Linked DNA regions of Homo sapiens: region 1 is linked to region 2. The links come from fine-mapping of genetic effects on gene expression. A gene starts in region 2. The other region holds a variant in brackets. All regions are shown on one strand. Distances are between the middles of the regions. Region 1 has its middle 8.1 kb from the start of BEX3. Region 2 holds the start of BEX4 (brain expressed X-linked 4).

What was found. PIP is the estimated chance that this variant, and not a neighbour inherited with it, causes the effect.
Region 1: its variant is fine-mapped to the expression of BEX4 in tibial artery (GTEx, PIP 0.93).

What each region holds. Positions count from the first base shown.
Region 1 is chrX:103,381,927-103,387,307 of GRCh38, forward strand. No RefSeq gene overlaps it. Among named protein-coding and RNA genes, the nearest start is that of BEX3, 8.1 kb to the left of the region's middle. The variant G/C (reference allele first, on the strand shown) is at 3,259.
Region 2 is chrX:103,212,857-103,218,237 of GRCh38, forward strand. BEX4 (brain expressed X-linked 4) reads left to right here and starts at 2,252. Exons shown (of 3, transcript NM_001080425.4): 1 at 2,252-2,382; 2 at 2,826-2,908; 3 at 3,293-4,390. The coding sequence starts at 3,298. The coding sequence ends at 3,660.

The DNA.
Region 1 (5,381 bases), 170 kb after region 2:
ATTTTGGCAAATTTAGAAATATAAAGTAAATATATTTATTTACTAGAACAGAACTATTTATTTACGAAACTTAAAAATTGTCTTAGAAGTAGAAAAAGTTTTGAGTTTTATAAATGAAATGGACAAAATTCCACGTCTACTCTGTCTCCTTTCCTGACATCACATGTATTATGTAGTAAATATACTGATTTTGTTTGGAAAAGTCCAGTTTTTAAATTTCAGAAAGATAGCATGTTATGTAGTCAATATTTCATGTGTAACCAGCTGGAATGCTTTCTAAGTGATATAACTATACATAACCCAATAAATAAGGCATCCCTATAAACTTGAAAATCTAATTTTTAAAAAATTTTTGCCAGACATTTGAAAAGTCACAATTAGCATGTTTAGAAATTTACTCTGTTGGAAAATATTTCCAATTTAATAAAAATAAACTTTGCTGAGTTTCATATGAAGAGAGAAATCTTCAGATGTATGCCCATTTAAAAAAATCATTTTTGGCCAGGTGTGGTGGCTCACGCCTGTAATCCCAGCACTTTGGGAGGCTGAGGCAGGCGGATCACGAGGTCAGGAGATCGAGACCATCCTGGCTAACACGGTGAAACCCCGTCTCTACTAAAAATACAAAAAATTAGCCGGGTGTGGTGGCGGGCGCCTGTAGTCCCAGCTATTCGGGAGGCTCAGGCAGGAGAATGGCATGAACCTGGGAGGCGGAGCTTGCAGTGAGCCGAGATGGTGCCACTGCACTCCAGCCTGGGCAACAGAGCAAGACTCCGTCTCAAAAAAAAAAAAATTTGTTTTCACACAAATGAACTTTGTGTTTCTGATTGTAAAGTAATGCATTCTAAAGTGGTTTTTGTTGTTGCTTTGAGCAGAAGACAAACTGTATTAAGAAAGTTTTAAAATATTTTCTTCAACATCTTGTTTCTTTTCCTAAGATCACATGAGTATCAATTAATTTTAAGTTGTTGTCTATTTTTTCCCTAAATTAATACATATTACTTAGTTTGTAATTAAAATTTGATTTTTAAAAGAGGAAGCAAACTAATGTGTCAGTCATTAAAAGGGTGGAAAATTTGTTGAAAAAGAATAATGAATTTCAAACTAGTTCTGGATCCTTTCGCTGATTATGTAAACTTAGTAGTTATTGCCATGGTAATGCATTAGTGTTTACCATACATTGGTAAAATGGAGATGATAATTTCCAGGGCTGCTGTGGGACCCAAAGGAGATAAAGAGCATGTGAGTGAATGGTGTTGGATGACTTCATGTTTTCACCTGCACATTCAGAATCCAAGTACCTCAGATCCCCTTCAGCTGCTGGGAGTAGTAGCCAAACTATGTCACAGTCCCACTCCATCCCTCAGCTATGATGACCCACCCACTTCTCCCAGTTCTGCACTCTCCACTGGCCTTGATCACTACAGATTTCTCTAGACACCTCAATGTGCTAATGTCCCAGTTTATATCCTACAGAGGTGTGCATAAAGACCTACTTGAATTACAGTTGTACTAGCTTTGTTGGGTACTGTCTTAGTGATGCTTGGACCATGGTATGTTTTATATTTTTAGCAAAAGAGGCCTTTTGCTCAGCTTATATTTGTGGTTATAGGATATTAGGGGCCGAGTCTTGTTTTTTTTTATCCACTCTGACAATCTCTGTCATGTAATTAGAGGGCTAAGACAATTTCCACTTCAAGTGACTATCAATATGGTTGTCACACAACCACAATTAATGCTCTGTTAATTTTTCAGTCTTTTCTCTCTGTGTTTCATTTCAAATGGTTTCTTTTGCTATGTCTTCAGGTATACTATTCGTCTACAATGTGTAATCTGCCATTAACTTCATTTAGTATATTTTTTCATTTCAGACATTGTAGTTTTTATCTCTAGATGTTTAATTTGAGCCTTTTAAATATTTTTTATATTCCATGTCTCTACTTAACTTATTCACTCTTTCCTCTAGCTTCTTGACCATATGCAATGAAGTTCTAATTATCTGCTTTTATGTCCTTATCTAATTCTACCATTGTTGTCACTTCTGGGTCAGTTTTGATTGGTTGCTTTTTCTCTCATGATGGGTTTTATTTTCCTGTTTCTTTGTAGGCTCTTGATTGGATGTCAGACATTGTAAGTTTCACCTATTGAGTGCTGGATATTTTCGTATCCCTGGAATTATATTGATTTTTATTCTGGAAAACAGTTATTTGTAAAGTTTGGTATTTTAGATTCTTGCTTTAAAACTTTGTAAGAAAGGATCAGTGTTGTGTTTAGTTTAGAGTGAATCGTTCTCCACTAATGAGGAAAATTCTTTCTGAGTACTCTATCTGATGTCCTATGAATTATGAGGTTTCCAAGTCTGGCTAGTGGGAACATGCACTGTTCCCAAACATGTGTGAACTTAAGGAATTATTTCCTTTAATCCTTTTCGGTAGATCATTTCCTGATCTAGGGTAGTTTCCCTACAGACATGTGATGATCAGAATGATCAGTACTAGTTAAAATACTTGGCAGGCCATTAGACTGAGGTGACTCTAGCAAACTAGAGTTTCTATGGAAGCAAACTGAAACCCAACTCATAGTGAATGGTCATAGCCTAGGAAAATAAAATTTAAGCATCACCAATTAAAAACTGCCAACTAACCTCTAACTAGAGACTTTACCAATCAAAAGCTGCCTATTAACCACTAACTAGAAACCTTTCACTTTTACAAATCAAATCTTTTCTTTGCTTTGCTTTAGAAAACATTTTATAAAAGATTTCCCTCACATGCCCCCTTGGTGGAACACTGAACCACTTGCAGTTTGGCATTGTTCTGTTCATGAATAAACTCTGCTCAAATAAACTCTTCAAAATTTTAATGTGCCTGTTTATTATTTAAGAGTACTCAGGTAAATATTCAAGAGTGGCTCTCCATGGATCTCTGGAATTCCTTCTCTGTGCAGCTCTTTCCTTTCTGGGACACAGCCCTGTGAACTCCAGCTTCCTTGCCCTCCTTGGACTCCCAACTTCTTATTCTAAGCTCTGGGATACCACAGGGCTTTGCCTGGATTCCTACTTCTTGCACTGTGGCCTGAAAACTTTCTTCAGGAAGTAAGCTGGGGCAATTGTTGTACCCGAGCGAGTCAGAAAAATGCCACACTTTGAGACGAATTATGAGTCCTTTTTTAGCCGGCGACCAAGAGACGGCTAACGTTCAAAATTCTCTCGGCCCCGAGGAAGGGGCTTGATTAATTTTTATACCTTGGTTTAGGAAG[G/C]GGGGGTGTCCAGTTAGAACAATTTTACAGAAGTTAAGTAGTCAAAAAGTTAAAAGGATAAATGGTTACAGGAAAGTAAACAGTCCCAGGTGCAGGGGCTTTAAGACTATTACAAGGTGATAGACGCGGGGCTTTGGGTGTTATCAATCGGACGAATTCTTGGGGACTGCAGATATAGCTTGCCACAGTATTTTATCAGTTAATTGCATTCTTGGATGTGCTGGGAGTCAGCTTGCACAAGTTAAGTCCTTGAGGAAGGGGCTGCCAGTGAAAGAGCCAAGATGGAGTCTGTCTGGCTCTCTTAGCTAAGGGAGAGTCAATTCAGTTGGAAACAAGGCTAGGTGATTAAAGGAAAAGGGAAAGTCTAAAAACAGAGTTAGTAAAAACCAGGTTGGGCATTACACAATCATAAGAATAACCTCATTTGTTCCCAGTTTCTCAGGGATCACTAAACATTGTTGCCTGTTGTCTAAGGTCTTGAGAACAGCTTGTTCTTGTATTTCATCCAACTTTTTAGTTGTTTCATGTGGGAGAAAAATTTCATCTATCTAGGAGCAGAAATTCTGGTATGCCTTAGGTAAATTCTGTTTTTGTTTGTTTGTTTTTGAGATGGGGTCTTGCTCTGTCGCCCAGCCTGGAGTGCAGTGGCATGATCATAGCTCACTACATCCTCAGTCTCCCCAGCTCAAGCAATCCTGCACCCTCAGCCTTGCAAGTAGCTGGGAACACAGATGTGCACCACCACACTCAGCTAATTTTTTTTTTTTATTTTTAATAGAGACGAGGTATTGCTATGTTACACAGGCTGTCTTGAACTCCTGAGCTCAAGCAGTCCTATCACTTTGGCCTCCCAAAGTGCTGGGATCACAGGCATAAGCCCCCATGCCAACCTTGAATAAATGTTTAATGTGGTCATTGTAAGTCTGTGGGGATCCTCAAATCCTTAGCCCAGTTCTGCCCTTCACGAAAGAACAGCAGGCAAGTCACTTCATTTCTCTAGAAGCAAAGACTTGCATTTCCTACAGCAAATTTAATTTGACACAGCAAATTAAAAATGAAAAAAAATTAGCATTGTATTATAAAATAAACATTGCATTGGATTCTTGTTTTTAAAAAACAGCAAGGAAGACTTTATTCAAGACTCTTGCAAGAGAGGAGAGAGATTGAACTCAGTTCCAAATACTACTGAGACAGCTGGGATTTTATGGCCACTGGGAAAGGTGAGGGAAAGGGTGGAAAACTAGTAAGAAATTTGGTTAGTTATCAGGGGAAGGGGAGGAACTTGATTAGACATCAAAAGTGGCAGAAGAAGAGCTTGATTGGATGGCAAAGGTGGGAGGATTCTTGATAAACTGACTCAGCAGGATTTTTGCTAAAACTGGGCTCAGTTGGCGAAATAGAGGCCCAGTTGAAAAAAATAAGGCTCGAAGACTGACTAAAGTTTTGGTCTAGGAGGAAGGAGTCCATGTCAGTATGTATTGGTGATTTTTGAAGCATTTCACACAGACTGCCTGCTTCACAATCTCCTGTCTTTGTTGTTAACAACATAGAATTTGTCACCCTTCCCCAATATTACATGATTCAAATATACTTCTAACTGGGTCCCAAAACATACATTATTATCATGCTCCCCTGAGAGATTCTAATGCACACTAATACTGGAGAACCACTGGTGGTACAATGGAAGCACAATTATATTGAGTACAAATATGCCTAGAGAAAGACTGTAAGAAAATGTGTCAAAATGCTAGAGAACCTAGTAATGCATATATCATGGGATCTAAATTATCCTATTCTATGTTAGGATTTATTTTTGAAAAATTTTCAACATTTCTCACCTTGGGATACATCATATACTAGATGTGATAGTTTTCTCTTTCTCAGAAAAGTGTTTCTGTTCACTATCTCCATGAGATTAATTTTGTTAGCTCTCTCATAAAAGTGAGAATATATGACATTTGTCTTTTCATGTGTGCCTTATTTCACTTAACATAACGTCTTCTAGTTCCATCCATGTTGTCACAAATCATTGGATTTCATTCTTTTTATGGTGGAATAATATTCCACTATGTATATGTACCACATTTTCTTTATCAATTTATCCTTGGATAGACACTTGGGTT
Region 2 (5,381 bases):
AGGCTGGAGTGCAGTGGTGCTGTCATAGCTCACTGTAGCCTTGACCTCCCGGGCTCAAGCAATTCTCCCTCCTTAGCTTCTCAAGTAGGCGGGACCAAAGTTGCGTGCCACCACACCCAGCTAAATTTGTGTGTGTGTATGCGTGTGTGTGTGTGTGTGTGTGTGTGTGTGTGTATGGAGATGGGGTTCTCCCTATGTTGCCCAGGCTGGTCTCAAACTCCTGGGCTCAAGCAATCCTCCTACCTCAGCCCCCCAAATTGCTGGGATTACAGGCCTGAGCCATACAACTCACATTTTACCTCTTCTCCAGGGAATTGTTCTCTGCCAAATGGGAGCCACCTTGCTCCAGAGACTATGCTCTGCTCCACCTACAGACTTTGATCTGTGACTGACGCTGAGCTACAAAAAGCCAGTGACTTACTGTCAACGTGGGATGACTTGTGTGTGCTTCAGAGTTTTCAGGTGCGATTAACTAAACTTAATCTCTAGTTAAACCCCATTCTTCATCACTGCCCTGCTCCCCAGCCCTGTCCTGCTGCCTTTACTTCCTTTAACCTGAGAGAGCATTACAAGAAACTACATTCATAAGGATCTCTGTTCCAAGTTCTGCTTCTAGGGAGCCCGACCTAAAATAGGAAGGGTCTCTTTATAGAAATATTTCAGCTAAAATCCCAAAAAGAGGAAAACAGAAAGAGTCTTTGCTTTCCCTTGGACAAACTTGAATTGAAATTGAACCCAAATTCCAGGATGCTTTTCTAGAATTAGTTACCATCTTATAGGAACCACAGAGTAAAGAGATAATGTGTTAATGACACCACTGAGATCCAGACTGTAGGAAAATACAGAACAAATGACTATTTCATCAATAATTAAAGAAAAAATTAAAAAATGAAAACCCACAGATTAAAAGAAATTTAGGAAATTTGGCAACCAATCAAAATGCGCATATCTTATTTGTATCTTGATTCAAACAAACTGTTAAAAAAAACTATAATACAATTGGGTATTTGAACACAGATTAGACATAAAATGATATTAAGGAATTGTGAATTATTAAATGTGACAACAGTATTGTGGTTATATGCTAAAAAGAAGAAAACCCTTATCTTGTAGATACATACTTTGAAATATTTATGCCTAAAGTGATATTATGTCTAGAATTTGCTTCAGAAATAATTTTAAGGTTGGGAAGCGGGTAAGATAAAGACGAAATAAGATTGGCCATGAGTTGTTAACTGTGGAATCTGAGTGAGGACTAGTACATGGGGTTTGCATTATACTATTCCATTTTTCCAAATGTTCGAAATTTTCCATTAAAGTTAAGATAAAGTTAAACTATAAAGACTGTTTCTTAAACAAAAAAGGGGCCGGGCGCTCACGCCTGTAATCCCAGCACTTTGGGAGGCCGAGGCGGGCGGATCACGAGGTCAGGAAATCCAGACCATCCTGGCTAACACGGTGAAACCCCGTCTCTACTAAAAATACAAAAAATTAGCCGGGCGTGGTGGCGGGCGCCTGTAGTCCCAGCTACTCGGGAGGCTGAGGCAGGAGAATGGCGTGAGCCCGGGAGGCGGAGCTTGCAGTGAGCCGAGATCGCGCCACTGCACTCCAGCCTGGGCGACAGAGCGAGACTCTGCCCCACCCCCCAAAAAAAGGAACAGAACAGAAAGGTATTAAGAAGAATTAGAAAAAAAATCCACTGTCCTTGACTCATTTCCTGTCCCCCCCCAAACGTTCTGGTGTGGAGAAAAGGATGAGCATTGGTAACAAGTACCACAGTTTGCCATTGGGGTGGGCGGGACTGATGCTCTCTTTATTTAAATTTTTGACATCTTGCTCATCATAAATTTTCTTGCAATAATTGTTTTTTAAAATGTTGCATTAAAATGTTATTTTTCTTGACTGCTGAGGAATTTTGCACCCCTTTAAATTCTGCGCCCGCGTCCTGGTTGGGAGATGTGGGGAAAATCCTGGGAGCCCAGGACAGGGAGAGGCAAGTCCCCACAGAAGTGGGAATGGCCAACAGCTCCCTGAGAAGACAGCTTCCCTCTTGGGGAGGCAGAGGAAGTCCCAAGAATACACAAAGACAGGAGAGTGGAAGGGCCGGCCAGTCTGGAGATACTAAAAGAGACTCCGGATGAGGATAGGGGCTGACCCGAAAGCCCCGCCTGACTCCGGGCTGCAGGAGGGGGCGTGGGACGGGGGCGGAGCCGTTGGCGATGACAACAGCCCCACGTGACCGGCCAACACTGAGTGTTGTCTCGCTCTGGCGTCAGAGCCGTCGTGGCTCGTTCCATTCTCGGCGGTGGTACCTGCTCCCGGTGGCCCTGAGGACGTGTGGGCCAGGGGCGGCCCCGAAATTAGGAAGCGGAGGGGGAGCAGGTAAGGAACCCGGCGGGGGGTCCCTGGGGTTGGTGTGAGGGAGTGGCTCCGGCCTGCGGATGCCCACCCCGGGGGAGCCGTGCGGAGAAGCAATCGGTCCGCGATGCAGCCCCCGGGCCCCGCGGCGGGCCCGCGAGCCTTCCTTGAGCGGAGAGGTGCCCGGCCCGGAGGGAGCCGGCGGTCCTGGGGCTACGACCCTTCGGAAACACCTGCCTACGCCATCAGCGCAAGCTTTTCCGACACCCCTGCCCCGCACTTCTTGGTGCAGAAAATGGTGGTCAGCTTGCGGGGCGGGGCGGCTGAGGCGGGGGGCGAGGGTGGCGAGGAGGGCCAGGGCCAGGGCCAGGGCCAGGGCCTCGGGGCGGGGCGGGGGAGGGGCCGGATGGCGGTAGTTCCTAGCTAGCGTTCTGCTGCAGCAGCCCCCACTTCCCCCACCCCGGCAGTCTGCAGGTCTGCGGGGCTAAGTGTCGCGGCGGCGCACCTCGCGTCAAGAATCCGGAGGAGGAGACTGCAAGGATAGGCCCAGGTCGGTGCGAGGGTCGGTGGTGAGGCGGGGGCCGGAACGTGAGGAAAGCCCAGTCTGAGACCCTAATCCATGCCTTCACCCTCGCCCCCCTCTACCCCATGCAACCCTCCCCTTCCCACACGCCATCCTCGTCCTCCATTTTGCTGCCTGCGGAAGCCTGGAGATGGATCTACAGGGAAAATGGTGGGCTTTGCGGAAGGGAGGGGCTCGGATTGAGGGCACCCCACAGGGCATACTGGCTTCTCAGGTGGAAAAAAATGAAATGTTAGAGTATAAAGTCAAGTCCAGGGCTCTGAATTTTAAAAGGTGCCTAGTAGGGCCTCTGTCCTCAGTGCTTATCAGTCCACCAAGAATTCAGCCCATTTTCTCTCTCTTGTCTCCTAGGAGTAATGGAGTCCAAAGAGGAACTAGCGGCAAACAATCTCAACGGGGAAAATGCCCAACAAGAAAACGAAGGAGGGGAGCAGGCCCCCACGCAGAATGAAGAAGAATCCCGCCATTTGGGAGGGGGTGAAGGCCAGAAGCCTGGAGGAAATATCAGGCGGGGGCGAGTTAGGCGACTTGTCCCTAATTTTCGATGGGCCATACCTAATAGGCATATTGAGCACAATGAAGCGAGAGATGATGTAGAAAGGTTTGTAGGGCAGATGATGGAAATCAAGAGAAAGACTAGGGAACAGCAGATGAGGCACTATATGCGCTTCCAAACTCCTGAACCTGACAACCATTATGACTTTTGCCTCATACCTTGAATCCTAAAAGTTTTCGCTGAGGTTAATGTGAACACTGCTTTACAAGCTTGTATTTTTGTGATTTACTTTTTCTGTAAGCCTTTTGGGGTTTACACTTACCAGTTTCTAATGGAAATTAGAATTCTAATTGAATATTGTTTTGTCTCAGCCTAAAAGTTACGGTCAGCATGGCAATTCACCTATTTTAGGAAAAATACTCTTTTCATAATATGAAATGCATAAAGCAGTTCAAAAAGCAGTCTGTATTCCATCATCTTCCTTTTTCATTCCAGTCCTTATTTTTGTAAGTATTACTTTTCCTCCTCCGGCTACCTGGACTCAAAATCTCAGTTGTCTTTGACAGTTTTTTTCTTGTCCCTGACCAAAAAAGAATGATCATACCCAGAATTCAATGTTTGATATTTTAAGAATGTATGTTCTAGTGTTTTTCAGAGTGAGTCTACCATCTGTATAAAAACACCTTGGGGGCAGGCAGGGGCATTTAAAAATGTAGGACCTATCGTCCAGACTCACAGAGTGGGGCTCCAGAATCTCCATTTTTAACAAACTCTCTTAAGTAATTCTGATGTGTACCAAAATCAGTGCCATTGGTGTGTGTGTACGTAACTATATACATATGTGTGTGTGTGTATATATATAATGTGTCATAACCGTAAACAATAAACAATATCAAGATAAATCTGACTTTGATGGGCAAGTAATTAAAAAAGAAAAGTATGAGACCTTAAAATAAGACTGATGATTATAGGAGTGGTAGGGACAGTGGCAAAGTTATTCACTGTGCAAAGCAAAACATGCCTGAAGGTCACAGCCTGAGGAACTCAGAATTCATCACCCCTGTCAGCAGTTTCACATCCAGGATCTCATTTTATTCTTAGAACAACCTATAAAATCTGTATTGTTATCCCACTTTTACAGATGAGGTCACTGGGGCTTAGAGATGTTAAGTACCAAGGCTAACTCCTGCTGAATATCTTGGGGGTGGGGGAATCCAGCCTGGGCCATTTTCTATTGGACCTTATCATCTGGAGATGCAGAATATTTGACTTTTGTAACTTGATGACAAGCTGAGGATGGTAAAAGAGACTCAGCAAGAATGGGGCTGTTTTTCTATACACTGTTTTTCTACATCTCAAGTACACTTTAATTTTTAGAATATTGAGGGATAAAAAAAGTAAGATCCTCTAGTGTTGTTCAAAGTTAGGATTGCCACTCTATGGCTCTTGAAATCAGTTTTGTGGGTTACAACAAGCAATTTTTTAAAAAGAGAACAAAAGTCATCCTATCACCCGTGAGTAGTGTTAAGAATTGTTTTGGAGAAAATAATGTGTTCTATGTAGTAAATATTGCCACCTTTATGATGTATTTCTAACTAGATCACAGTGAAAAAAGAATGAAAATCACTTATTTGGTGCAAACTTGGTTTCACAAGTGAAGAATTGTTAAGAAAGCGATTTTTCCTAAGGTCATACAGCCAATTAGTGAAAGCTGTGACCACAGCCTTGGTGCTTCAGGGTGCTTGTCTTCTCACCACATTGCCTCCACAAAGAATTATTTGGAAATTTTTGCATTATGTACTGATTGCCAATCAGTGTAAATGGAAAAGCATATACAACTTATGCAAAAATCACTTTATATGAACTTCACACTATTTAGTCATCAGAATTCCTGCATGTTCAACTGAGAACCACATTTAAGGGAAACTCTGCCTCAGATAATTT